Homo sapiens: one gene and its partners. The protein of the gene in region 4 interacts with the protein of the main gene of each other region in a pairwise test. Each region holds a gene or a part of one and is shown on either strand. Other genes may lie near its edges. The genes, in order: SPATA12, FASTKD1, GABPB1 and EIF2S3.

Evidence for each region.
Region 1: the proteins of EIF2S3 (region 4) and SPATA12 interact in binary tests that used the Homo sapiens proteins (3 or more experiments, as listed by UniProt).
Region 2: the proteins of EIF2S3 (region 4) and FASTKD1 interact in binary tests that used the Homo sapiens proteins (3 or more experiments, as listed by UniProt).
Region 3: the proteins of EIF2S3 (region 4) and GABPB1 interact in binary tests that used the Homo sapiens proteins (3 or more experiments, as listed by UniProt).

Annotation. Positions count from the first base shown.
Region 1 is NC_000003.12:57,056,314-57,063,674, reverse strand, and holds the start of SPATA12 (spermatogenesis-associated protein 12), read right to left. Parts: upstream 3,012-7,361; 5' UTR 2,889-3,011; intron 1-2,888.
Region 2 is NC_000002.12:169,556,865-169,563,891, forward strand, and holds part of FASTKD1 (FAST kinase domain-containing protein 1, mitochondrial), read right to left. Parts: intron 6,487-7,027; coding exon 6,361-6,486; intron 3,922-6,360; coding exon 3,523-3,921; intron 3,517-3,522; exon of another isoform or gene 2,060-3,516; coding exon of another isoform or gene 2,049-2,059; intron 434-2,048; coding exon 323-433; intron 1-322. UniProt on the Homo sapiens protein: Involved in the down-regulation of mitochondrial MT-ND3 mRNA levels which leads to decreased respiratory complex I abundance and activity.
Region 3 is NC_000015.10:50,345,186-50,352,212, reverse strand, and holds part of GABPB1 (GA-binding protein subunit beta-1 isoform beta 2), read left to right. Parts: exon of another isoform or gene 1-3,277; intron 3,278-5,817; exon of another isoform or gene 5,818-5,841; intron 5,842-7,027.
Region 4 is NC_000023.11:24,057,956-24,064,982, reverse strand, and holds part of EIF2S3 (eukaryotic translation initiation factor 2 subunit 3), read right to left. Parts: intron 4,896-7,027; coding exon 4,801-4,895; intron 2,568-4,800; coding exon 2,409-2,567; intron 783-2,408; coding exon 648-782; intron 1-647. UniProt on the Homo sapiens protein: Member of the eIF2 complex that functions in the early steps of protein synthesis by forming a ternary complex with GTP and initiator tRNA.

The DNA of each region.
Region 1 (7,361 bases), on a different chromosome or scaffold from region 4:
AAGCCTTGTCTCACCTGGCTTCTAGGATGCCCGACTCTCCTGATCCTCTTCCCACATCTCTGTTAAGGAGCACCCCAACCTCCTGGTTGCTCAGGCCCAAAGCCTGGGGCGTCATCTTTGACTTTTGTATCTCTCTTCTCTTCACTTGTCAAAAGACTCTACTTGTAGAGTGGCCACTGCTCCCCTCCCGCTCCTACCACCCTCCAGGTCATTCTCCCCTCTCACCTGAATGACTGCGGCCTCCAAGCCTCTGCCTTTACCTCCTTTCAGCTTGTTCTCAACTCAGAGTCAGAGGGAACCTTCTGAAGGGTTGGCTACTTCTCTGCTCAAAGCCCTCAAATAGCTCTCATTTCACTGCAACAAAGCCAAAGCCTTTAGGGTGGCTGGCTGCAAGGCCCCATGTGATCTGGCTGCATTTCCTCTCTGACTCCTCTCTTAGTTTGCCCTTCCCCCTCATAACCGCACTCTAGCCACATCACCTCCATGCTGTTCCCTGCGTGGGCACCTCAGGGCCTTTGCACCTGCTATTCCCGCTGCCCAAAATGCACCTCTCCCAATATCTGCAGAGCTTGGTCCCTCATTTCCTTCAGCCTTCCCTGGTCATCGTGTCTAAACCGTTACCACTGCATCCCAACTTCCCCTTTGCCTTCATTGCTTTTTCTCCTTACACTATCGTTATCCAATATAAGGTGTATTTTGCTTATTTATCTTGTCATCTGCCTCCCCCACTAGAATGTAAATTCCATGAGGGCAGGGATTTTTCTTCTATTGTGTTCCCTGTCATGTCCCCAGTGCCTTGCCTGGTACAGACAATAATTTGTTGAACCCGTAAAGAAAAGTTTGGTAAACAGATTAAAAGCCATTTGATTCTTCTATTATGATATAATTCTTGCCTATATTTTTCTTACCTGTGAATTATTACATATGTGTATGTATGTGTGTGTGCATGTTTGTTGTGTGTGTGTGTGTGTGCATGTGTGTAGACAGAGAAACAGCGAGTCCTGTCATTCCCACCAGATATTCCTGCTTGTTAAACAGCTACATAGTGTTTTGCTGAGTGGCTAGAGCAGCTTTATTTAACCTTGTTTTGTTCAGTACTACTGGGCAGCTTCCAATCTTTTGCTATTGTAGATTATGCAGCATCTGTGCTGGGCACTTGCCCTGCTTCCTTCCCTCTTCTCTGAAAGGCTTCCCCATGCTCCTGAGCACCCCCCGCCCCCGCCGCCGTGCTCCTGAGCCTAGCCTGAGCCCGAGTGGGGGCTGTGGTCCTGGCTGGGCCTATCATGGTTCCCCTCCCCTCGGCTGTGGTAGCCGGTCTGGAGCTAGACACAAGCCACCCTTGCCAGGCTGTGGGCTTCCTCAGGGTCATCCTAACCCACTCAGAAGTGGCAGAGAAGGTGCTTGAAGGCACTCACCCAGCGCTAGAGCAGTGAGGACAGGCCCAGAGTGTGGAGCTGCGAGGGGAGGGTTGGGCACATTGCCTTTGGATCTAGTCACATGACTGAGCTGCTCCAGGGATCTTCCTACAAATCCCCCTTCTCACCCATCTAGATGGAGTTGGATTTCTCACTGCTAGCAGTGAGTCTAGACAGATCCAATCCAGTGGAGCATCCCTGCCCCACTCTCTTTTTTTACTTGATCCTTAGTCCAGAGCAAGGAAAGATGTGGAAACCCTCCCAAAGGCATTATTCAGGGCAGAAAATGCTTGTAGGCAGAGCAGCACCTTGTTTTTGTCACAACCGGAGAAACAATTTAAATCTGAACCTATGCGGGCTCAGATACTGATGCTGCCATCTGAGAAGGAGGACCTCTCTCACCTCAGGTTCTTTGTCTGTAAAATGGGGATGAAAATAATTATACCACACCTCAGGACTAAATGAGTTAATAAAAATTCTTAGAGTGGTGAGTAACACAGGATGAGAGACTGCTCACTGAGAGTTAGCTGTGGTGGCTGCCAGAATCCTAAAAGTGTAACAGGAGTTAAACATAGAGGTATCATATAGTCCAGCAATTCCAAATCTGGGTATATACCCAAAGAAATGAAAGCAGAGATCCAAACAGATACTTGCATTCCCATGTTCCCAGCAGCGTTATTCACAATAGCCAAAAGGTAAAAATAATACAAATGTCTATTGACAGATGAATGGATAAACAAAATGTGGTATGTACATACAATGGAATATTATTTAGCCTTAAAAAGGAAGGAATTTCTGGTTGAGTGAGATGGCTCACACCTGTAATGCTGGCACTTTGGGAGGCCAAGATAGGAGGATCTCTTGAGCCCAGGAGTTTGAGGCTGCAGTGAGTTATGATCGTGCCACTGTACTCCTGCCTGGATGACAGGGCCAGACCCCATTGCAAAAAAAAAAATAATAATAAATAAAGGAATTTTTGACACATGCTACAACATGCTGATCCATGAAAGTATTATGCTACATGAGAAAAGTCAGTCACAAAAGGACACTTACAGGGGGTACCTGGAATAGCAAGTTTAGAGAGAGAAGTATTAATACAGTAGGGGCTGGGAGAGGGGCAGGTGCAGGAGGAGTTACCGCTGAATGGGTACACAGTTTCTGTTTAGAATGACAACAAAGTTCTGGAAATGGATAATGGTAAGAGTTGTACAATATGGTGAATGTGCTAGATGTCACTGAACTGTACACTTAAAAATGGTTAAAGTGGTATGTTTTATATTATATTTTACCACAATAAAAAAGAGTATAAGAGGAGTTGGACTCTCCTGGACTTTTTCTTTATAGATTGAACTTATGTCAAAATGTAGCACAGTGAAAAAACAGGCACAGGCCAAAAAAGAAGTGGTGGTGGTGTGTGCCCATGTGTGTGTGTGTGTTTCGGGGTGGGGGTGGGGCGGCAGGTAAACTACTCACAAGACACCAGAGGCTCCTTTTGAGGTCTGATACTGCAGGCTGGGATCTGACGCTGCAGGATCAGGAAGAGTGGGGGAGATGAGGGGAAGGTGAGCCTGCACAAAGAATTTTCTCAGTGACTGTGGGCAGGGCAGTCAGGACCCTGGGTCACATGGGCCCAGCCCGGGACCAGAGCCTTTGTGAGTCACAGCTCAACTCCCAGCAAACAAAGGGATATGCCAGGGAGGGGCTGAGTTGTGACTCAGAGGCTGCTGCTGCTGTGAGCTTCCTCCAGGAACCCCATCCCTTCCAGTCCCTGATTCTGACTCCTACTGTGGGGGTGGGGACAGGTGTACCCACTTCCTGGGCAGGTTCTTGGAAGGGCTCTCCTGCAGAACCTAGACTTTTTTGCAGCTCCTTTTTGATAACCCGAGTAGCAGCAGCTATACCATTTAAGTGCTTGCTGCATACGGGCCCTGGGCTAAGTTCCTTTTTTTTTTTTTTTTGAGACAGAATCTCAGCTCTGTCGCCCAGGCTGGAGTGCCGTGGCACAATCACGGCTCCCTGCAGCCTTGACCTCCCAGGCTCAAGAGATCCTCCCACAGGGACTGTAGGTACATGTCACACACCCAGCTAATTTTAAAATTTTTTATAGAGATGGGGTCTCGCTATGTTGTCCAGTCAGCTCTTGAACTCCTAGGCTCAAGTGATCCTCCCGCCTTGGCCTCCCAAAGTGCTGGGATTACAGGTGTGAGCCACCATGCCTTGTCCCTCACTTCATCTATTTATTTTTATTTTTATTTTTATTTTTGAGATAGAGTTTCACTCTTGTTGCCCAGGCTGGAGTGCAATGGCGTGATCTCCGCTGACTGCAACCTCTGCTTCCCAGGTTCAAGCGATTCTCCTGCCTCAGCCTCCCGAGTAGCTGGGATTACAGGCATGTGCCACCATGCCTGGCTACTTTTGTATTTTTAGTAGAGATGGGGTTTCTCCATGTTTGTCAGGCTGGTCTTGAACTCTGGACCTTAGGTGATCTGCCCAACTTGGCCTCCCAAAGTGCTGTGATTACAGGCGTGAGCCACCATACCCAGCCCCTCTTCGTCTTTTTAAAGCCTCATTGTCACCCCATCAGGCAGTCATTTCAGTCCTACTTTGCAGAAGAGGAAATGTGCTTATGGAGGGAAGCAACTTGCCTGAGGCTATGTGGGTGGCAGATAGCAGAGCCAGATTTGAACCTATCACTGATTAAGGAGCCTGGACTTGTAATCATGCTGCTCACCACCCTCCCTCCCCCCACCCCCAACTCATACACACACGGGGAAGAACAGACTCCAAAATGTGACTTATCTTTAGGCCAAGCTTGTCTAACATGTGGCCCAATACAAATTCATAAACTTTTAAAAAACATTATGAGTTTTTTTTTTAGTTCATCAGCTATTGTTAGTGTTAGTGTATTTTATGTGTGGCCCAAGACAATTCTTCTTCCAGTGTGTCCCAGAGAAGCCAAAAAATTGGACACCCTTGCTCTAGGCTTAAAGACAAGGCTTAAAATTTTTTCCCTGTGCTTATGAAAAAATTTAGAAAATACAAGTAATGAATATATTTTATAGTAAAAAAAGGCATAGTTAAGTATGATTGCATGTCAGCATTTCTTTTTTTTATTATTATTATACTTTAAGTTTTAGGGTACATGTGCACAACGTGCAGGTTTGTTACATATCTATACATGTGCCATGTTGGCGTGCTGCACCCATTAACTCATCATTTACATTAGGTATATCTCCTAATGCTATCCCTCCCCCCTCCCCCCACCCCACAACAGTCCCTGGTGTGTGATGTTCCCCTTCTTACGTCCATGTGTTCTCATTGTTCAATTCCCACCTATGAGTGAGAACATGCGGTGTTTGGTTTCTTGTCCTTGCGATAGTTTGCTGAGAATGATAGTTTCCAGCTTCATCCATGTCCCTACAAAGGACATGAACTCATCATTTTTTATGGCTGCATAGTATTCCATGGTGTATATGTGCCACATTTTCTTAATCCAGTCTATCATTGTTGGACATTGGGTTGGTTCCAAGTCTTTGCTATTGTGAATAGTGCCGCAATAAACATACGTGTGCATGTGTCTTTATAGCAGCATGATTTATAATCCTTTGGGTATATACCCAGTAGTGGGATGGCTGGGTCAAATGGTATTTCTAGTTCTAGATCCCTGAGGAATCGCTACACCGACTTCCACAATGGTTGAACTAGTTTACAGTCCCACCAACAGTGTAAAAGTTTTCCTATTTCTCCACATCCTCTCCAGCACCTGTTGTTTCCTGGCATGTGAGCATTTCAAGTTGTTATTTTTATGCACACTTTTGGGACCTTGAAGGGCAGGTGACATGAAACAAACCCATTGGGTACAAGTATCACTCATTTTGCTGGACGCCGAGAGCATCACAGTCTATGACAGTTTTGTCCAATGTATGTAAAACTGTAATGGCATTTCAAAAAGACCAGACTGATTTGGAACAAGTTCTCATAAATGTGAAAATAGAGAAAATAGGTGTAATGTAGATTGGCCCTTGAGGGAGCAAGTGGTAATACTAATTTCCAGGCATTCCTTATTTTTCTGTGTAAAAGGCCACATGGCTTATTTTATGGAAAGAAACTTGTTCTTTCAGGACTTTTAATTGAAAGAGATTGTGGGAAATAGGTAACCCTCCCTTCCTTTACAGTCGGCTTTTGGTGAATGTGGCCATGGCAAGGACACGACTGAAGGGTTAAAGCCCAGTCAATATGAGGAAAAGGAAATTCACTTTGGACAATAGTTTTAGTTTCATCTGAAATTTTATCAGAGTTGCTAACTTGGTGGCAAAACTGACTGACTCATTTAAGTGGCCCCTCCTCAACTCTCCCTTGTCTGTCTAGTATGGACAGTAAAATCAGTGAGAGCAAGAATTAAGCCCCCCAGTTTGTCTGTTATAGTAGGAGGCAGTCATTCATTCACTTACTCTATATCACTCAAGTATGTATCAAGTGATACGATGGCTGGAGTTCGCTTCACTGGGTTGAGTGTAGAAGAAATAATATTAGGAATGAGTTGACCACTCAAATTGTATGATGTGTGGCACAGAGGGTACATTATATTCTTTCTCCGTTTGTATTTAAACTTTTACATTTTAAAAAAGCTTGTGTGGGGGTGTGGGTGTGGGTGTGACTTACCCTGGGCCAGGCCCTGTGCTAGGTGCTGAGGAAGTCTTGGTGGCTAAGACCGGCTCAGACTCTACCCTACCAGAGTCAACAGACAAGACTCACTCAGGAAACAGATACTAATCAAATAGTCACATGAATGCAAGTAAAATTATAGTTGGGATAAGTGCTGAGAAATCATGAACAGAAATGCAGAAACCTGGACGGGCGCGGTGGCTCACAGCTAATCCCAGCATTTTGGGAGGCCAAGGCAGTCGGATCACTTGAGGTCAGGAGTTCGAGACCAGCCTGGCCAACATGGCAAAACCGCTCTCTACTAAAAATACAAAAATTAGCCAAGTGTGGTGGCACGCACCTGTAATCCCAGCTACTTGGGAGGCTGAGGCAGGAGAATCACTTGAACTCAGGAGGCAGAGGTTGCAGTGAGCCGATATCATGCTGCTGCACCCCAGCCTGAGCAACAAAGTGAAACTCCATCTCAAAAAATAATAATAATGAAAATTAAAAAATGCAGAAACCTGCAGTGTAGACCCCATTTTACCCAGGATCATAACGGGACTACAGCTGGAGGTACTACCAAGGGGGCAGGTGGAGTGACAGCCTGCTTGTGTTTAGACCTAAAGGAAAAGATGGAAGGGGGCAGGGGGCAGGGGTGTGTGGGGTGTGTGTGTGTGTATAGACCTGCATGGTCAAGGCCAAGAGGAGCCTTTGTGTTTTGTCGCCTGCTTGAACCATGGTGGGATAGAAGGATTTCAGGGTGGACCAGTTGACTGAATGCCCTTCAATCCCATAGTCTTTTGTGGTGCATCAACCTCATAGAGGACCTTGTGGTATATGTTCAAGATAACAGAGACCGGGAGTTTGAGACCATGCCCAACATGAGGCAACATAGCTACATCCTGTCTCTACAAAAAACTAAAAAGAAAGAAAAAGAAACGATAACCGATTCTGCTTAGAAAAAAATCCACATCTCTTCTTGCCTTAACTAACATGCCCTTTCCACTCCTCGTCATGCCTCCTGGTCTCATGGATGTTCCAGCTATGTCCCAATCCCTTTGCTTGCTCAGCCTCTGAGTCTGCTGGTCCTCCTGTCCAGAACACTTTTGCCCCTTCTCTTAGGGCCAGCTCCCTCCCATATCTAGTTTGGCTCAAACATTGCAGGGAGGCTCCCCATGATCACTTTTCCCTGCATACTTGCTCTGCTTCTTTTTTTTTTTTTTTTTTTGATGGAGTCTTGCTCTGTCGCCCAGGCTGGAGTGCAGTGGCACAATCTTGGCTCACTGCAACCTCCGCCTC
Region 2 (7,027 bases), on a different chromosome or scaffold from region 4:
GGCATGGTGGTGGGCGCCTGTAGTCCCAGCTACTCAGGAGGCTGAGGCAAGAGAATTGCTTGAACCAGGGAAGCAGAGGTTGCAGTAAGCAGAGATAGTGCCACTGCACTCCAGCCTGGGCAACAGAGTGAGACTCTGTCTCAAAAAAACAAAAAAAAAAAGAAAAGAAAAACAAAGTAGAACATAAACAGTGGCTTAAGCATTAATTCCTTATTTCTTCAAAACAACTGGTAGATTAAAGAAGAAAACCATTTTTCCTTAGAAAAAAATAGGTGCTTGTGAATGACAACAAACTTAACGTCGTAAATTTCAGAAAAGATACCTTTTAATCAGACATGAGTTTCTGCTTTCCATATCTCCCATTGCTCCCAACACTGCCAGGGCTTGCTCGCCAGTTAGGTCCTCTGACATCAATAACATAGTTGATTTAAGTCTAGAAGCAAAAAAAAAAAAGTTTTTGGTTGAAAGACTGAAAATTAGCTTGCAATTTTTTTTAAATAACAGTTCTTGGGTAACAAATAGGAAAAAAAATATAAACAAAAACTGAATCCAATATATAATTCTAGTGTTCTCCCCACATTACTCGAATATAAAATATTACTGAATAAAGAAAAATATATTGTCTTCTTCAATGAAATTCAGGCCTCATTATAATCCAATCTTAAACTGTTTGAAAAATACAGGTAAAAGATATTTTAAGATTTTCAAATAATACAAGGTTATAATGGTTATAAAATACTATGATTCAGTGAAATTATTCAATACTAGAGAGCTAAGAAATGAACAGTTGATATTCTGACAATTTCCCAAATGTTTTAAAACTGAATAGGAACATCTAGGAGTCAATAAACCTGCATATTATCAGAAATCTCATATACTAAGCACTTGATATAACAGTATAAACTGAAAATTAACAAAGCTGGTCCATTTTGACTATGATTAGTTGTCATTTGAACTATCCAAAGTAGTGCAGTAATGTTAAGTACCATGATACGTGTATTTTTTAGAATCATTTAGAAAGCAAGCTCGAAACGTGACATCTGATAGGATAAACTAATTGTCTATTCACATGGATAACTCCATGCCATCCTTTCCACCAACCTTTTCAAAGGTTTCAAACCCAGTTTCTCCACAAACTTTTCCCAACCACTTCAGTCTATATTTTTCTCTCACTTCTGTCTGCTCACAGCACTATCCATATCACTAATTTTATTGTTTCTTCATAAACTATGTTGTTACAGTATTTACATATTTCAATTATATCTATCCTCTCAATTGCAATATAAATTCCTTGAAGACAGACTCAGTTAAACCCAACTGTTTTATTGCTTTAGCACTGAGATTTTAACAGTACTTGGTGACAAAAAACGGTTCCAATAAAGTTTGTTCGTGTGTGTGTTTCTTCGTCTGTTTTGAGATGGAGTCTCACTCTGTTGCCCAGGCTGGAGTGCAGGAGCATGATAGCTCACTGCAACCTCCGCCTCCCAGGTTCAAGCGATTCTCCTGCCTCAGCCTCCAGAGTAGCTGGGATTAGAGATGCCCACCATTGCACCTGCCATCACTCCCGGCTAATTATTTTTTGTATTTTTTTGTTTGTTTTTTGAGACAGAGTTTCGCTCCTGTTGCCCAGGCTGGAGTGCAATGGCGCAATCCTGGCTCACTGCAACCTCAGTCTCCCAGGTTCAAGCGATTCTCCTGCCTCAGCCTCCCAAGTAGCTGAGATTACAGGTGCCCACCACCACGCCCGGCTAATTTTTTATATTTTTACTAGAAACGGGGTTTCACCATGTTGGCCAGGCTGGTCTCGAACTCCTGACCTCAAGTGATCCAACCGCCTCAGCCTCCCAAGGTGCTGGGATAACAGGCATGAGCCACCACACCCGGCCCTTTTTTTTTGTATTTTTAGTAGAGTCGGGGTTTCACCATGTTGGCCAGGCTGGTCTCAAACTCCCGACTTCAAGTGATCTGCCAGCATTGGCCTCCCAAAGTGCTGAGATTACAGGTGTGAACCACCGTGCTGGGCCCCAATAGTTTTTTTTAATAATCACCTTGTTTCCATCTTGATATAGTCTTAAGATGTGCTCTTAAATTTTTTCATATAATTCAAAGTACTTTTTTTTTTTTTTTGAGTCAGAGTTTCGCTCTTGTTGCCCAGGCTGGAGTGTAATGGCGCGATCTTGGCTTACTGCAACCTGCACCTCCCGGGTTCAAGCGATTCTCCTGCCTCAGCCTCCCGAGTAGCTGGGACTACAGGCGCTGCCATCATGCCCGACTTATCTTGTATTTTTAGTAGAGACGGGGTTCCTCCATGTTGGTCTGGGTGGTCTTGAACTCCCGACCTCAGGTGATCCACCTGCCTTGGCCTCCCAAAGTGCTGGGATTACAGGCATGATCCACCGCACCCAGCCACAAAGTACTCTTAAAAAATAAAACTTTCTCCGTAAAGTTTTCCCTAACAGAGTAATGATACAGATTCCCCTATTGTGCAAGTCTTGGAACCCCTGCTTAAGTGAATCTACTAATCATACTTATGTGTTAGGACTATTATATAAAATTCTTATTTTTTTCTTTTATTTTTTCTTTTGAGACAAGGTTTCATTCTGTGCCCAGGCTGGAATTCAATGGCGCAATGTCAGTTCACTGCAGGCTCAACCTCCTTGGGCTCAGGTGATCCTCATGAGTAGCTGGGAATCTAGGTGGGCACCACCACATCTGGCTAATTTTGTATTTTTTTGTACAGACAAGGTTTCATCATCTTGCCTAGGCTGGTCTCAAATTCCTGGGATCCAGGGATCCACCTGCCTCGGCCTCCCAAAGTGATGGGATTAAAGGCGTGCAACGCCGTGCCCAGCTTGTAATTCTAAATATTTCATACAATTATGCTGGGTGGGGGAAGTTTATGTCTAGTATAAATCCAGTCACATGGCCTAGGAAGAGAAACTCTTATCTATTAACCGTATTTGTATGTTAATTTAATATTTGCTCATCATTATATTTCAAATATTACTACCTACATCAGTATCTAGCAAAACTGGAAATTCCTAAATGAGAGGCGCCACACAAAATTTGCTCAAACCTGACATGGGAACATATGCCCAGTGCATAATAAATGCTTTGATGATTATTGTGATGAAGACAGCAAAGCATAAAATGGCCCTCTGCTATGACTACTATAATTCTAAATATTCCACAGACTTACACTGGGTGGGGGAGTCTTATATGTGTAAATCCAGTCATGTAGCACAAAAGGGAGAATAAAAACACATGGCGTTTCCCCTCATTTTTTTTCATGTTGGCCCAGTATCAGAGGTTTACCTTTCAGAACACAGCAACAGACTAAGAGTTTGAGATGTAAATTAGAATAATCAGAAAAAGAATCAAGGAGCAGAGCATAAGAGATTATTTTCCCTTCCACAACCTAATAGGGTGATATTTGTACCTTCCAGAGCTGCAAGGAGACCTAAGCTTGAAGGCTCCACGTATTCACAACAAAAAAAGTAATGCATTTTAAACTGAACTTACTGTTTCTTTTCTTCAGGTCCTGCAATGGGTCCCAATGCTACAAACAATTTTACAAAGCTAGCAGGATGATTACACAGAGGAATCATTTCAGTTAGCTTCTTTTTAGCCATTATAATAAATTCAAAACTATTAAATTGTAGAAATTTGTATACACTAAGTATTTTACTGATGGAATCCAAATCAAGGTGGTCCACATTACTTAAAAATACGTTATTACATCTTTCTAATAGTGGTTGATAACGATATCTAACATTTCGAAGAAACTTTGCTATGCTTTTTGCAACGTTGACCTCAGAAGAATCTATGGTGTCAAAAAGAAGTTCTGTTTTGTTCACCAGTTGTTGTTGAAAATGTCGTGATATTAAAGAAGATATGTTGACCATCAAGACAGACAAGGAACTGAAAAAGAAAAAAGATGCAAAGATTTTTACATCAATTAAGAATGATCAATTCTTTTTTTTTTTTTTTTTTTTTTTTGTAGAAACAGAGTCTTGCTATGTTGCCAGGGCTGGTCTCAAACTCCTGGGCTTAAGCAATCCTCCCACCTCAGCCTCCCAAAGTGCTGGGATTACAGGCATGAGCCACTGCACCCAGCCACATAAGTGTATTTTTTTTAAAAAAAAGGCAAGGGGCTGGGCATGGTGGCTCATGCCTGTAATCCCAGAACTTTGGGAGGCCGAGGTGGGCAGATCACTTGTGGTCAGGAGTTTGAGACCAGCCTGGCAACATGGTGAAACCCCATCTCCACTAAAAATATAAAAATTAGCTGGATGTGGTGGCGAGCACCTGTAATCCCAGCTACTCAGGAGGCTGAGGCAGGAAAATCGCTTGAACCCAGGAGGCAGAGGTTGCATCATTGCACTCCAGTCAGGGAAACAGAGGGAGACTCCATCTCAAAAGAAAAAAAAAAAGGCAGGGAAGTAGGGTGGAGTGGGGCAAGAAGAGCAGGAAACTACTATAATTTAATTTTACCAAAGTGCTAATCACTTTGTAAATATGAGAGAAAAAGCTGTATCTGAAACGCCAAAGACAATCATAGTACTGGATTATGAAGGTTAGCATTGACAGTAAGTAATCTTATGTTAAAAACAAAACAAACCCTCAAACCACTGGTATGAAAACCAGAGAAACTCCTTAAATGTTAGTTTCAAATTAATAGTTCCTTGACATTCAGCAAATGTAACTATTAACTCTCCTTTATGAAACTGAAAAGAAAGTATTCCCAGATGGAAAGAATAAAAAAGACATAATTGTATGTAAAATTTGTGAATTTGTTTATAAATTAATTATAAATTAATCCATTATAAATTATTAATCTATTATAAATTAATTATTAATCTATTATAAATTAATTATTCATTATAAATTATTTATTAATTTATTGTAAATTATTTATTAATTTATTGTAAATTATTTATTAATTTATTGTAAATTATTTATTAATTTATTGTAAATTATTTATTAATTTATTGTAAAATAATTATTTATTAATTTATTGTAAATTATTTATTATAAATTATTTATTTATTGTAAATCAATTATTTGTTAATTTATTATAAATTAATTATTAATTTATTGTAAATTAATTATTCATTAATTTATTGTAAATTAATTATTCATTAATTTATTGTAAATTAATTATTTATTAATTTATTGTAAATTAATTATTTATTAATTTATTGTAAAATAATTATTTATTAATTTATTGTAAAATAATTATTTATTAATTTATTGTAAATTAATTATTTATTAATTTATTGTAAATTAATTATTTATTAATTTATTTTTTGGTTTTTTTGGATTTTGTTGTTGTTGTTTCAAGTTTTGTTACTGTTTTTTTTTCGTTTTTTGTTATTGTTGTTTTGAGACAGAGTCTTGCTCTGTTGCCCAGGCTGGAGTGCAGTGGCACAATCTCAGGTCACTGCAACCTCCACCTCCCAGGTTCAAGTAATTCCTGTGCCTCAGCCTCCCGAGTAGCTGGGATTACAGGCGCCCGCCACCATGCCCAGCTAATTTTGTATTTTTTGTAGAGATGGGATTTTTGCCATGTTGGCCAGGCTGGTCTCGAACTCCTGACATCAAGTGATCCACCCACTTCGGCCTCCCAAAGTGCTGGGATTACAGGTGTGATCCACCATGCCTGGCCAATGAATTCATACTTAATTTAAATACTTCTTGGGTTTACTTCATGATATAATAATAATACCTACTATCCATTACTGAGAAACTTCTATGTTCTAGATACTTATTCAGAGGCCATTTTCAGTGGGTTTCTGACTGCCTTTGTTCAGAACTATCTTTTCAAGGATGTTTGCATAGCAAACAGCCTAGGAGAATAGAGATAATGTCTCCTGTTGGAGCAGAGTAGGCATGCTTTATTATAAAAGATTCAGGTTTCCTAAGCTCAGAGCTCCTCTCCTGGATCACAACCCATTATGGGAACGAGAGCTCAGGGAATCAACACAAGAAAATTCTGGTACTCTGCTACTGCTATTGCTATAAAAAACAAAGTCCTCTCTCTGACCTCGGAGTCTCAGGCCTTCCTACGGCACACGTAGGAAAATGTGGCAGGCAAACTTAGCTTGCAAATAGGTAAAAACTCAGATCCTCCACAGACCTCAACAATATTGTATTACACTTTATGTACCTTATGTCTAATCCCCACAGCAATATTGCAAAGTAGCTATTACTATCCCTCTTTTGCAGATGAGGATAACGAACTTCCAAGAGCTTAAGTAACCTTAAGTCACATAAACTAAGAGTAGCAAATCTGACTGCATCCACATCCAAAGCCCAGGATCTTTCCACCACAACACAAGATTCCCTAAATAAATTTACCTTAAGTCCTGTGTGGTTTCCAAGTTCCTATGAACAATATCAGCTATTTTTCCCATTAATGGACTAAAATACAAATGCTGATCTGCTAGGCAAGAGGAAAATTCTGAGAGCAGTTTAATATCAAACCTATTAAAGGAAATATACAAAGGAGAACATTAGTATTTACTTTCACTTAAAACACATAATATATAGTTATAAAATTAAAAGCAATCAAAATAGTAAATTACATAAAATTTTTTTTCTAAAATGTTATTATTATAAAAGTAACATGGCAACAGTTAAAAAGTCAGATACTGTAGAAAGGTTTTGAAAGGGGGAAAATCACTAAAAATTATTTGAATGATTTACTTAATTTTTTTAGATGACAGAACAATTTTGACTCAAGGTTGCATATTAACAAATATAATGGCTGCTACTACAACAGTGCTATGAATTTTTTTAATAGGAGAAATAATCCAATTTCTTCAACAAGAAAATGGCAAGACAAAAGAGAGGAAAAAGGAACTGTTATAGATTTTATGACTTTGAATTCACTAAAAAACAAGCATAAGAAAATTCACAGCAACACATATGTAATAGCAAAACCCTGCAAAAAACCCGAATGTCCATCAAGAGTACAATGGATAAACTGCACATACTCATACAATAGAATAAAATTATGGAATCA
Region 3 (7,027 bases), on a different chromosome or scaffold from region 4:
GTAACAGGTAAAGTGCACGTCATGAGGAATTCAGAAATTCAGAAATTACATGAAGTTTTGCATCATGAATTTATTTTTGAGGGTGCACGAGGCAGTTACCCAGTCTCTGTTTGCAAGTAGCCTGAGTTCAGATGAACTCACTGATGGCCTCCATCTCTTCTGACTTTGCAAACGTTGAAAAACAAACCCACACAAAATCTTGAAGTTGAGAGCAACTTAGTTTCCTTAGTGTCATCCCTCTGCTCCCCTCTCCTCCCCAACAACTAGTATGGTTTCCAGCTAGTAATCACAATGTTTCTATAGCTCTGATGTGCCTACATTGGGATAGCTACAATTAGTATTATAGTTTTCTGAAGATGTTTGTTCCATCATGCTTTCTAGAAGGTAAATCTAGCACTAGATGAGATCAGTATTAGGGCCTGTGTTTTTTCTCAGTGTTGACATCACAGTGCTCTATACAAAGAAGATGCTTTGGTGCAATCAGCTGTCAGTTCAGTTGGTGGGCTAGTGCACCTTTCTGTCTCCCTCCCTCCCTCCCTCCCTCCCTCCCTCTTTCCTCTCTCCTTCTCCCTCTGTCCCTCTCCCTCTCTCTCCTTCCCTCCCTGTTTTCCCCTTTGCACCTCTTCTTTCTTTGACAGGGTCTTGCTTTCTCTGTTACCCAGGCTTAGTGCAGTGGTGCGATTATACTTCACTGCAAGCTCCACCTTTCAGGCTCGAGCGATCCTGCCTCTGCCTCAGCCTCCTGAGTAGTTGGGACTACAGGTACCTGCCAACATGTCTGGCTAATTTTTTAATTTTTTGTAGAGACGAGATCTCACTGTGTTGCCCAGGCTGGTCTCAAACTTCTGGACTCAAGTGATCCTCCCACCTTGGCCTCCCAAGTGTTGGGATTATAGGCGTCAGCCAACACACCCATCTGTGAATAATTCTGAAGTTGGTAGAACAGCTTATTGACAGAGCAAGGTGTTAGCCCCACTTTACTGTGTACTAGTTATATTATATTTGGGGTATTGTGTTGGCTTTTTGGGTAGCATACTATCATAAGTGAGACCTTGTATTCATTCTCAGACTTTATCAGAATCATCTGGAGAGCTAATAAAAAGCCACACAGAGGCCCAAACTTAAGTAGGGTAGGAACGGACCTTAATTTTTCTCATTTCCAAGGTGGTAGACACCTAAGTGTCAAAATCACTTATCTGTAGAGCATAAACGAGGACCTTGATCATGAGAGAAATGGAAATGAGAAAAAGTTGAAAAAATGGGATGTTTGACCTAAAGAAGAGGAGCTTCTTTTAAGAAGTAACAGCCACTTTTAAGGATTTGGAGTTCTGTCATGCAGAAGGATCAGATTTGACTTGACCAGAAGGAACTAGGGTCAGTGGGTGGAAGTTTAAAAGAAGCAGATTTCAATTCTCTTTCAAGATAAATTTCCTCAAAATTGTGAAAATAGAATGAGTTGTTTTGGGTGGTAGGCTGTTCCTGTTCACTGACAAATTGGGGATTCTAGAGTAGAGGAATCGTACTGAAGGAGAATTTGAGCTAGGTGTCTTCAAGTTACCTATAAACTTTGAGGTTTTATTAAATATGCCGAGGTTTACAGGTGGAAGAACAAAAAGCTAATTGAGTGAAACAAACTGGTTAACTTGATAATAGTTTTTGCCTTCCTGGATAAAGAGAAATGAGTATTAAGTGAGAAGGCTATTTAATGAAGGGCTTTAAACCACACTGTAATTTGGTAGATTCAGCAGCTTTAAAAATTGGCATACCTTCTGACATGGAAATTCCCTTTAAAGAATTTTTTTTTTGATGTAGTAAAGATGTGTGTGAATATTTAATTGTGAGCATACTAGATGCAGTATTGTTGATTATAAAAGCTGTGTATTAATGCCTTTAAGCCCCACGGTAATCATATGAAGTGGGTAGTACTATTTCTGCTTTTCAGAAGAAAAAACAGGCATAGAGAAATGAGGTTGCTTGCTCAAGGTACCTGAGTTAGTTAAGTGTTAGGGCCAGGACTTGAATCCAACCAGTGTGACTCTAGAGCCAGTACTATTGATCATTATATGGTAAAATTGTAAACAACCTAAATGTTTCACAGTGATTGTTAGGGTCCATCCCTACAGTGGGGTACTGCCTTCTCAGCCATGAAAATGATGATAGAATAATATAAAGACATGAAAGGATGTCTTGGTATATGTAAGTGAGAAAAAATAAATTTAAAAACATGATTCCATTTTGGTAAAAAAACCCAAAAATATATTATGTCTGGAAGGATATGTGCCAAATTGTTAAATGGTTATTTCTGAGTGTAGTTTTACAGGTGATTGTTTTCTTTTTGCTTATCCAAATTTTCTAACTTCTACAATGAATATAAATTATCTATCATGTTGTAATTAAGATATTAAGATGTAACTTTTCAATAAAAAATTAAATGTGTTAGCATAAGCTGAGAAATTTGGGTTTTATACTCTGCATTTTAAGCAAGTTTGTAGAAATTGTACATGAGAATTTGTAAATGCATGTAGTGTTTTGTAATTTTTTGTTTGATTCCTTATTCTAGAAGTAATATCAATTGAGTAGAGAAACATATCACTCCTACCACCCTACCATAATCAATTATTTTGTTGTGTGTTGTTACTCTTATGTGTAATATTTTAAATATTCATCCCAGTGTCATCCCAGTTAGTCATACTCTAGCTGTGTGATTTTAGGCAGTTTACTTAATCTCTCCGTGGCTCAGTTTCCTTCTTTGTAAAATGTGGATTATTATAATACTTAGCTCATGATGATTGGAAAGATTAAATGTTATTTCATATAAAGTGAACAGAACAGTACCTGAAACATAACAGTTAATAGCTCAATAAATGTTAGCAATTATAGGATCACAGTCCACCATTCAAACTCTTAGGGTCTAATAGGTTATGGAATTAGGAATTTTTTTTTTATATGGGCAAGGTAGTAATGTGTAGCCTTCCAATAGAGTCCAGTGCAATATCCCCCTTCAAAAGTGTTACTGTTTCTGCAACAAAATGTATGAATGTTCGCACTAAATAGGATAAAGACTGTAAATAGCTTCATATCAGTTTGGGTAAGGTTTACCACAAGATGAGTTATTTTGGGTTTCAGAAGTTTTTTGGATTTTTGGAATTGAAGATAAGGAACCTATAAAATATTAATTTTGAGTCCTATTTTATAATATTAAAACATCTTTTCATGGTATTTTATAGTTTTATAGTGCATGGTAAATTAAAGTCAATTAAAATGAAATAATGGAAAATGTCCACCTCCATCTCCTTTGATTTAAAAAATACTCAGCATACTGATACTATGATTTAAAAAAAATTTTTTTTTTGAGATGGAGTCTCACTCTGTCGCCAAGCTGGAATGCAGTGGCACGATCTTAGCTCAGTGCAATCTGCGCCTCCTGGGTTCAAGCGATTCTTCTGCCTCAGCCTCCCGAGTAGCTGGGACTACAGGTGCGCGCCACGACGCCCAGCTAATTTTTGCATTTTTAGTAGAAACGTGGTTTCACCATGTTGGTCAGGATGGTCTTGATCTCTTGACCTTGTGATCTGCCTGCCTCGGCCTCCCAAAGTGCAGCAATTACAGGTGTGAGCCACTGTGCCCAGCCAAAAAGTTTCAAAGTTTAAAAAAAAAAAAATGGCCGGGCTCAGTGTCTCATGCCTGTAATCCCAGCACTTTGGGAGGCCGAGGCGGGCGGATCACTTGAGGTCAAGAATTCGAGACCAGCCTGGCCAACATGGTGAAACGCCGTCCCTACTAAAAATACAAAAATTAGCCAGACGTGGTGTGTGCTTGTGTCTCGGCTACTCGGGAGGCCGAGGTGGGAGTATTCCTTTAGTCTGGGAGGCGGAGGTTGTAGTGAGCGGAGATTGTGCCACTGTACTGCAGCCTGGGTGACAGAGCAAGATTCTGTCTCCAAAAAAAATTTAAAAAACTACTCCTGTTGGTCCTGACTGTGATTCTATTTTAAAGAATATCTTAAACCCACTAATGCTGTGATTATATTACATAATGTAGAATCTTTTTCTGAAAGAGGCTTGAGCATTCCTATAACCCAATTAGCTTGTTTATGTCTCATTACACTTGAGGGATAAGATACTTTTACTATGGTGGTTTACTATAGTAGTGATTCTTTTTTTTTTTTTCCAGATGGAGTTTCACTCTGTCACCCAGGCTGGAGTGCAGTGGTGTGATCTAGGCTCACTGTAACCTCTGCCTCCCGGGTTCAAGTGATTCTCCCAAGTAGCTGCAGTTACAGGTGCCCGCCACCATGCCCAGCTAATTTTTGTATTTTTAGTAGAGACGGGGTTTAGCCATGTTGGCTAGGCTGGTCTCCAACTTCTGACTTCAAGTGATCTGCCCACCTTGGCCTCCCAAAGTGCTGAGATTACAGGTATAAGCCACTGCGCCCAGCCTATAGTAGTGATTCTTTAAAGGAGGTGGGTAGATGACACTGTGATACCTGTCTTTAATGCACCCATTCTGTGCATGTAGAGACTGAGGTGGTTGTAAAATTACAGTACTGAACTTTGGAATTAGGTCAATTCTTCTCATTATGATAACGGTTTTGGATGTATAGCCCCTTCTGACTCCTGGAATCCTTTATTTCCACAGCACTTCCCATGTATCCAAACAGAGGAAAAAATAATTAGTAGTATAGTGCTTGCTTCAGCAGCACATATACTAAAATTGGAACGATGCAGAGAAGATTTTCATGGTCCCTGCACAAGGATGACACATAAATTTATGATGTGTTCCATATTTATTATTATTTTTAATAATAAAAAATAAAAAAAATTTGTATGGTGTGTAAGTGAATGATCTAAAAAATTTCCTTTGTGCCCTAAATGACTTGTGTGAACTCTGTGATCTTTGCCAATGTGATTATTCTTCCTGTGTTCCTTTACTTGTTCCATTCATAGTGACCCTCAGTTTCTTGCCCTAAGTGCTATGGTCTAAAAGCTTGTGTCTCCCCATAATTCATGTTGAAATCTTAACCTCCAAGATGATGGCATTAGGAGATGGGGCCTTTGGGAGGTGATTAGCTCAGGTGGGTAGAGCCCTCAGGAGTGGGATTAGTGCTCTTAAAAAAGAGACTCCAGACCGGGTGCAGTGGGTCATGCTTGTAATCCCAGCACTTTGGGAGGCTGAGGTGGGTGGATCAGGAGGTCAGGAGTACAAGACCAGTTTGGCCAAGATGGTGAAACCCCATCTCTACTAAAAATACAAAAATTAGCCGGGCACAGTGGCAGGTGCCTGTAATCCCAGCTACTCAGGAGGTGGAGGCAGGAGAATCGCTTGAACCTGGGGGGGGCGGAGGTTGCAGTGAGCCGAGATGGCGCCACTGCACTCCAGCCTGGGCGACAGAGTGAGACTCTGTCTCAAAAAAAAAAAAAAAGACTCCAGACAGCTTGTTAGCTCTTTCTTCCACATGAGGTTACAGCAAAAAGACAGATGTCTAGAAGCTGGCCCTTACCAGATACTGAATCTGCCAGTGCCTTATTTTGGACTTCTCAGCCTCCTGGGCTGGGTGAGGTGGTTCACTACCAGCCTTGGCACCATAGTGAGACTCCCATCTCTACAAAAAAAAAAAAAAAAAAACTTTCTGTTGTTTGTAAGCTACCCAGTTTATGGTATTTTGTTACAGCAACCCAAACAGTCTGAGACGTTTAGCTTAACTCCTGTATGCACTAGATACAGTCTGCACTTTGACATCAATCACTTATTTTATATTTTACTGGACTCCTGTTGTCAGATTTTTCCACCATCGATTTCTTCTGTTTTCCCTCACAGGTCACAGCATATTTGTGGAGGAAGGTGAGTAATTATGAAGATTTCTTGGCCACTATAAATTTACGCTGAACAATTCCAAATAGGCCCCTCCTACTTCTTGGCAATCATCTTATTAATTGCATTTTTCTGTTGTCTCATATTCCTTCTTCCTCTTTAACTCTTAATAGATGCCATTTACTTCTATATAAGTGAAAAAGGAAAACAGGGTACAAGCTTGCACATTTTTTTTTCATTGTAACCATGACAAATCACTGTTCTTTCATCTTATTTTGTAAATTGAACGGAAGAAGAATCCTGCTGCCACAGTTAACTTTACCTCTCTGGTCACTTTGATTGTTATTTGCAATGTTTTTTCTTCCCTACCTTAAAATATGTACAGACTTCTCACCGGGCGTGGTGGCTCATGCCTGTAAACCCAGCACTTTGGGAGGCCAGGGCGGGTGGATCACGAGGTCAGGAGATCGAGACGATCCTGGCTAACACAGTGAAACCCCGTCTCTACTAAAAATAAAAAAAATTAGCTGGGCGTGGTGGCGAGCGCCTGTAGTTCCAGCTACTCGGGAGGCTGAGGCAGGAGAATGGCGTGTACCCGGGAGGCGGAGCTTGCAGTGAGCCGAGATCGCACCACTGCACTCCAGACTAGGCGACAGAGCGAGACTCCATCTAAAAAAAAAACAAAAAAAAATGTACAGACATCTGTACTTTGGGAGGAAAAAAAATCAATTTTGATGAACTGCTGCTACTGTTCTTTCTAGCTATCTGCTGCATTTCTCTTCATTTCAAAAATTTTAAGAATTGAATTACAATTGCTGCCGTGAGTTTTTACTTTTTTTTCGAAGACAGGGTCTCACTGTGTTGCCCAGGCTGGAGTACAATTGCAGCTCACTGCAGCCTTGACCTCCCCAGGCTCAGGTGATCCTCCTACCTCAGTTTCCCGAGTAGCTGGGACTACACGCATGTGTCACCATGCCTGGCTAATTTTTGTATTTTCCTGGTAGAGACAAGGTCTCACTGTGTTGGCCAGGCTAGTCAACTCCTGAGTTCTTTTACTACTACTTTCCTAACTTACGCAGTTTTGGAATAGCATAATTCAGATTGTCGCTTCAGAGGACATCTTTTTTGTCAATAATATTGGCTTCATCCTGACTCTTTTCAGCTAGTATATATGTGTTACTATTTCCACTGAGGCTTTTTAATGTTCTCTCCTTGC
Region 4 (7,027 bases):
AATTGAACAACAAAATCATCTGTAAATGTTTTAGTCAGGAAGTTCTAACACCCTAAAACATTATGATTCCATGGAGAATACTGTATTACTCCATCTTGATCATGTACCATATATTAAGCACAGAAAGGTTAGCAGTTGTTTTTGGGTTTTTTTGAGACGCAGTTTCACTCTTGTTGCCCAGGCTGGAGTACAATGGCGCGATCTCAGCTCATTGCAACCTCCGCTTCCCGGGTTCGCGCCATTCTCCTGCCTCAGCCTCCCGAGTAGCTGGGATTACAGGCACCCGCCACCATGCCCAGTTAATTTTTTATATGTTTAGTAGAGACAGGGTTTCACCATGCTGATCAGGCTGGTCTCAAACTCCTGAACTCAGGTGATCCACCCACCTCGGCCCCCCAAAGTATTGGGATTATAGGCGTGAGCCACTGCGCCCGGCTTAGGTTAACAGTTCTTACTGTGTTCAGGACTCTGTCCCTCATTCAGTAATACAATCTAGCACTGCCAATACAATCTCAGAATTGATTTCAAAAAAATTGTATGAATTATCACCTCTGCAGAAAGAGGAAATATTAATAAACATCCTTGAAGAGGAATCACCAATGTGGAAAAGATCAGATTAAGAGTTAAAGGCAAATCCTATCACTTACCAATAAGCCGGGGCTCTGAAGTAAAGTCTCTTGGGGGTACTGGAATTTTCTTTACTATGTACTCACAAACAACTTCAATATTGTATTTCAGCTGAGCTGAAATTGGAATAATGGGAGCTCCCTCTGCTACTGTACCTATATGACAAAATTTAGAAAGATCAAAATTATACAGTTTTATAAAATTTATTCTATGTATCTGTTACATAAAACAATTAAGATTACTATAATAAAATAGATGCCTAAACCCCATATAAATGTCAGCAACAAGTGGAAAGTGGATAATTCTGTTTAGAAAGATGGCAATATTGTTTGTTTTTACTCCTGAAAATGAATACAAATCCCTGTAAGAGAAAATTTGTTACATTATATTAGTAGACATACTTAATATTAGTACAATGATAAACTTATTTAAATAAAGAAAATACTAACATTCCTGTGAAAGAGCACTCTACTAGTTGAAAAAATTTCTAACAACATGTAATTAATCTCCCAATAAATGTCAAGATAAAATTACAGACTCTGCTAATCAAAGACTGCTGGCATATATACTTTTTTTTTTTGGAGATAGGGTCTCGCTTTGTCACCCAGGCTAGACTGCAGTGGCATAATCACGGCTTGTTGCAACCTCCACTTCCCAGGCCCAAGCGATCCTCCCACTTCAGCCTCCTACATAATAGCTGGGAACACAGGTGTGTGCCACCAAGCCCAGCTAATTTTTTGTATTGACAGAGTTTTACCACGTGGCCCAGGTTGGTCTTGAACCCCTGGACTCAAGTGACCCACCCGCCTCAGCCTCCTAAAGTCTTGGTATTACAAGTGTGAGCTACCACGCCCAACCATATATATTTGCTACGTATTGATTATACGTCAAACAAGCTAGTCAAAGAAATAGACCAAACACAATTAGACTTTAATCAAATTCACTTATTACTTCTCGTGATGACAGAACTGAGTTCATAAGAAATTAACCTTTCTAAAAAGAAAAACAAGACTGAGAGAGAAAATGTCAACAATAAATCACATCTCCTCTGAAATGAAAAACATTATGCTATTAGAGAAGGGACACTCTAGAGATTTATTATTTATTTATTTGAGATGGAGTTTCGCTCTTGTTGCCCAGGCTGGAGTGCAATGGCGTGATCTCGGCTCACCGCAACCTCCGCCCCCCAAGTTCAAGCGATTCTCCTGCCTCAGCCTCCCAAGTAGCTGGGATTACAGGCATGTGCCACCACACCCTGCTAATTTTGTATTTTTAGTAGAGATGGGGTTTCTCCGTGTTGGTCAGGCTGGTCTCGAACTTCCGACCTCAGATGATCCACCTGCCTCAGCCTCCCAAAGTGCTGGGATTACAGGTGTGAGCCACCATGCCCGGCCGACACTCTAGAGATTAAATAATCACTGTCACTTCCAAATCTGAAAGCTGTTCAGTAACAAATACTGTAAGACAAGGTTTTTTAAAATTATTTTATTCATTTTACTGTCACTGAGATTTTTTTTAATCTGATTGATAAAGTTTCCAGAAAACAACCTCAGTTCTAACTTGCTGCCAGCAAAAATATACTTTAGTATATTAAATTCAGAATCACAGGTTTCATTAGTTATATCAGGTTACTAACAAGCAAAAGGTAGGGCGATAAGGCTTAAGACTTGTAAGTTTACCTTGTTTTAGATAATATATTAAAAGTTAATTTAACATCTGGTATCCAGAGTAAATGCCTCTCAAAGTGATTCATAGATTTATTTCATATTATGGCTTCTTACCTTGGACAAATGCAAGGATCTGCTCGTATTGTTCTTTAGCCTGACTTTCTTTTACCAAATCAATTTTATTTTGTAGAATCAAAATATGCTTCAGTTTCATGATCTCTATAGCAGCCAGGTGTTCCGATGTCTGAGGCTGAGGGCAAGATTCATTACCAGCTAGTTGATGAAGAATAAAAAAGATGCATATAAGAATAGCTGGAAATATCCAGAATAGGCGGGCAAATCCATAAAGAGACAAAGCAAATTATGGGTTGCAAGGGGCTGGGGGAGGAAAACATGTGGACTGACGCTTCATGGGCATGGGGTTTCCTTTTGCGGTGATACAAAAGTTCTGATACAAAAGTTCTGGAACTAGATAGTGGTGAAATGACAACCACTATGTTGTAGAAAATTGTCAATGTGCTTAATGCCACTAAATTCTACCCTGTAAATACATAAAATGGTACATTTTATGAGTCTCTTTTGCCACCCACTCCCCGCCCCAAAAAAAGTTGGCATCTAATAAAGGAGACTTCTGAATGTTCTAACCCTAATAAGGAAGATATTATTGCCAGGTATCCACCTTTTGGCCCTGCTTCATCCTCTGTTGCCTGCATTCACTGGAACCTCCCAATTGTGTGGCTCCCAATCCTGGTCCTAAGCAAGAAGCTTAAAATCAGCAAGTTTGGCTTTTCTCAGGGTCTGCACTCAGCTTTTGCTCAGGTATGAGGTATAGCCCTCTAACTCTCTCCAGTTTTAGAAATGTTCTGGCCCAGGCAAGCTCCTGAGAAGTAGAGAGTAATTAAAAGGGAAAAGCACTTAATACTGTCTATGAATTTTTACTAATATCAGAGGCTACTCTTCAACTGAGGGAGGGAAGAATGCTATTGTGAAGATAACCAACAGTGTATTATAAAGAAATAGGCATGTTTTGTTGAGCACTCTAATGATCAACCTCCTCAAGTCGTGATATTCAAGTGTCCTGACTATACCAACATGGCATGCTTTAAAAAAAAAATTTTTTTTTTGAGACTGAGTCTCACTCTGTCTCTGTCACCCAGGCTGGAGTGCAGTGGCGTCACCTCGGCTCACTGCAACCTCCGCCTCCCAAGTTCAAGCGATTCTCCTGCCTCAGCCTCCTGAGTAGCTGTGATTACAGGTGTGCCCCACCACACCCGGCTAATTTTCGTATTTTTAATAGAGGCAGGGTTTCACCATGTTGGCCAGACTGGTCTCAAACTCCTGACACCTCAAGTGATCCACCTGCCTTGGCCTCCCAAAGTGCAGGGATTACAGGTGTGAGCCACCGCACCCAGCTTTTTTTTTTTTTTTTTTTAAGACTGAGTCTCCTTCTGTCGCCCAGGCTGGAGTGCAATGGCTCGATCTCTGCTCACTGCAACCTCTGTCTCCTGGGTTCAAGCGATTCTCGTGCCTCAGCCTCCCAAGTAGCTGGGATTACAGGCACGCACCACCAAGCCTGGCTAATTTTTTGTAGTTTTAGCAGAGACAGGGTTTCGCCCTGTTGGCCAGGCTGGTCTTGAACTCCTGACCTCAAGTGATCCGCCTGCCTCGGCCTCCCAAAGTGCTGGGATTACAGCCATGAGCCACCATGCCCAGTCGCTTTTTTTTTTTTTTTTTTTTTTTGAGATGTAGTTTTACTCTTGTTACCCAGACTGGAGTGCAATGGCGCAATCTTGGCTCACTGCAACCTCTGCCTCCCGGGTTCAAGAGATTCTCCTGAGTAGATGGGATTACAAGCATGCGCCACCACACCCGGCTAATTTTGTATTTTTAGTAGAGAGGGGGTTTCTCCATGTTGGTCAGGCTGGTCTCAAACTCCTGACCTCAGGTGATCCGCCGACCTCAGCCTCCCAAAGTGCTAGGATTACAGGCGTGAGCCACCGCACCAGCAGCTTTTAAAAAATTTTACCCCCTAGTAATGAAATCTCTCAACAGCTAACATAAGAAACAAAGCATACGCTACCCTTCAAAACTCCACTTATTCCTACACTTCAGCACGTATTATGAATATTTGTATCTTAAATACTTCCACAGTAGACAGTTCAGACATACACACACACAAACCATAACACAAATAGTTTTACACATACATTTAAAACTAAATAAATCACCTCATGTGATTTAAATGAGAAAAATGAACTATTGACTTTTTTTCTTTTTCTCAAATGCTACCACAAGAATTCTCGCAAGCTATCAGCCCCAAGTCTATCTTTTTGAGTATTTTGTGATAGCTGATAGGTAGGAAAGTCATCCTGGATGACATGTTAGTTCCCATTCATGTCACCCTTAGGTAATAGATATGATCCTTAAAGGCCTTAGTTCCCCTTTAAATATTTCATCTTGGATTTGTTCCACATTGATTTGTCCAAACCAATTGTGAGGTATTTACCTATCAACAGAAGAGCTGCATCCATCACTGCTGCACCGTTCAGCATAGTAGCCATCAAAATATCGTGGCCAGGACAGTCAACAAAGGAAACATGTCTAATGATTGAGAAATAACAATCAGCCTTAACATAAATCACTACTTACACATGCTAGTTTTAGATTTTTTAAAGTTAAATCAACTTAGGAAATAATCTTATTGCTATAAAATGGTTACAGGGCTTGTCGTTTCTAGAACTTGGAAATAAGTTCACCAGCTGATGAAAACCACTGCAGATTACAAAGCAAATTAAATTAGTTATGTGCAGAATGGAAGATAAACTCCAAAATCCAATGAAAATGAATATGGTATAGAATAATGGTGGAGAGTATATACTGAGAATGTCATTGATTTGAAAGCTAAAACTTATAATGACTTATAAAAACCACGTTAACAGAATGAGAATTTGAAAAAACAATTTTCTGGCTGGGCGCAATGGCTCACACCTGTAATCCCAGCACTTTGGGAGGCCAAGGCAGGTGGATCACCTGAGGTCAGGAGTTTGAGACCAGCCTGACCAACGTGGTGAAACCCGGTCTCTAATAAAAATACAAAATTAGCCACATGTAGCTGGTGCATGCCTGTAATCCCAGCTACTTGGGAGGCTGAGGCAGGAGAATCGCTTGAACCCAGGAGGTGGAGGTTGCAATGCGCCAAGATAGCACCATGGCATTCCAGCCTGGGCAACAAGAGTGAAACTCCGTCTCAAAAAAAAAAGAGAAAAAAAAAAACAATTTTCCAAAAATACCTCTAACACCTTGAAAAACTAGAATTGCCCATTTGAAGCAGAGATGGCAGCACTTTTAACAAAACTATGGTATTCATTCAGAGTCACAATTGTTTTTTTAATCGCATGCTCACATTGTCATGATCTAAAACAGAGGTCAGCCCTTAGGCCAAATCTGGCCCACCACCATACCTATTTACACACGTATTGTCTACGTTTGCTTCTGTAATAGAAGAACAGAATCAACAGAAACTCTATGGCTTGCAAAGCTGAAAATATTTACTACCTAGCCCTTTGTGGAAAAAGTTTGCTGATCCCCTATTAAAGGCCAGGACTACAGTGAGACAAGTGCAAAATTTAAGAGACTGCCAAAAAACTCAGTAATCAAGGAAAATGGCCGGGCATGGAGGCTCATGCCTGTAATCCCAGCACTTTGGGAGGCTGAGGCGGGCAGATCACTTGAGGCCAGGAGTTCGAGACCAGCCTATACAACATGGCAAAAGCCCACCTCTACTAAAAATATAAAAACTAGGCCGGGCACAGTGGCTCACGCCTGTAATCCCAGCACTTTGGGAGGCCGAGGCGGACGGATCACAAGGTCAAGAGATCGAGACCATCCTGGCCAACATGGTAAAACCCCGTCTCTACCACTGCACTCCAGTCTGGCGACACAGAAAGACTCCGTCTCAAAAATAAATAAATAAATAAATAAAAATAAAAACTAGCTGGGCATGGGGGCTCACGCCTGTAATCCCAGCTACTCGGGAGGCTGAGGCAGGAGAATTGCTTGAACCCAGAAGTGGAAGCTGCAGTGAGCCAAGATCGCACCACTGCACTCCAACCTGGGCAACAGAGACTGTCTCAAAAAAAAAAAAAAAAAAAAGAAAGAAAAAAAAATATATGCATTCAGTATTTTTAAAAAGTCGAAATTAATGCAAAAAATCAATCATAAACAAAATACAATGCCATGCTGAGCCAAAGCAAAAGGGGAAAAAAATTTAGTAATAGAGTCTGCCCTTATTTAAAATTCTGATTTATCACATTTTTTGCATTAATTTAAAAAAAACACTGCATTAAAATATTTATCCTAATTACTGAGTTTTCTGGCATACCTGCCACCGCCAGGCCCACTTACATTTTGGGCTTGAGGTGAAGGCCTCACTTGTCCCTCCCTGGTCCCAGCCCTGCCCCAATCTAAACATTCCTTGTAGGGCATCTCCAATCCCCATAAACATCACTAGACAGGTGTCAGTATCCTGATAAAAAAACAGGTATGCAATCATATTCAGAAAACAGATGGGGAACAAGTTCAAGTGTTTTAGAGAAGTAATTAGAAATGGCTCTGTTTCTCTCCTATTTAACATACAGAAACAGCGCTGTTTAAAAGAAATTCAGGAAGCCTAGAAAAAGAATCCCTTCAATCCAATGAGTTGTTTTTCTGTTTTGTTTAAGTGATACTTTTAG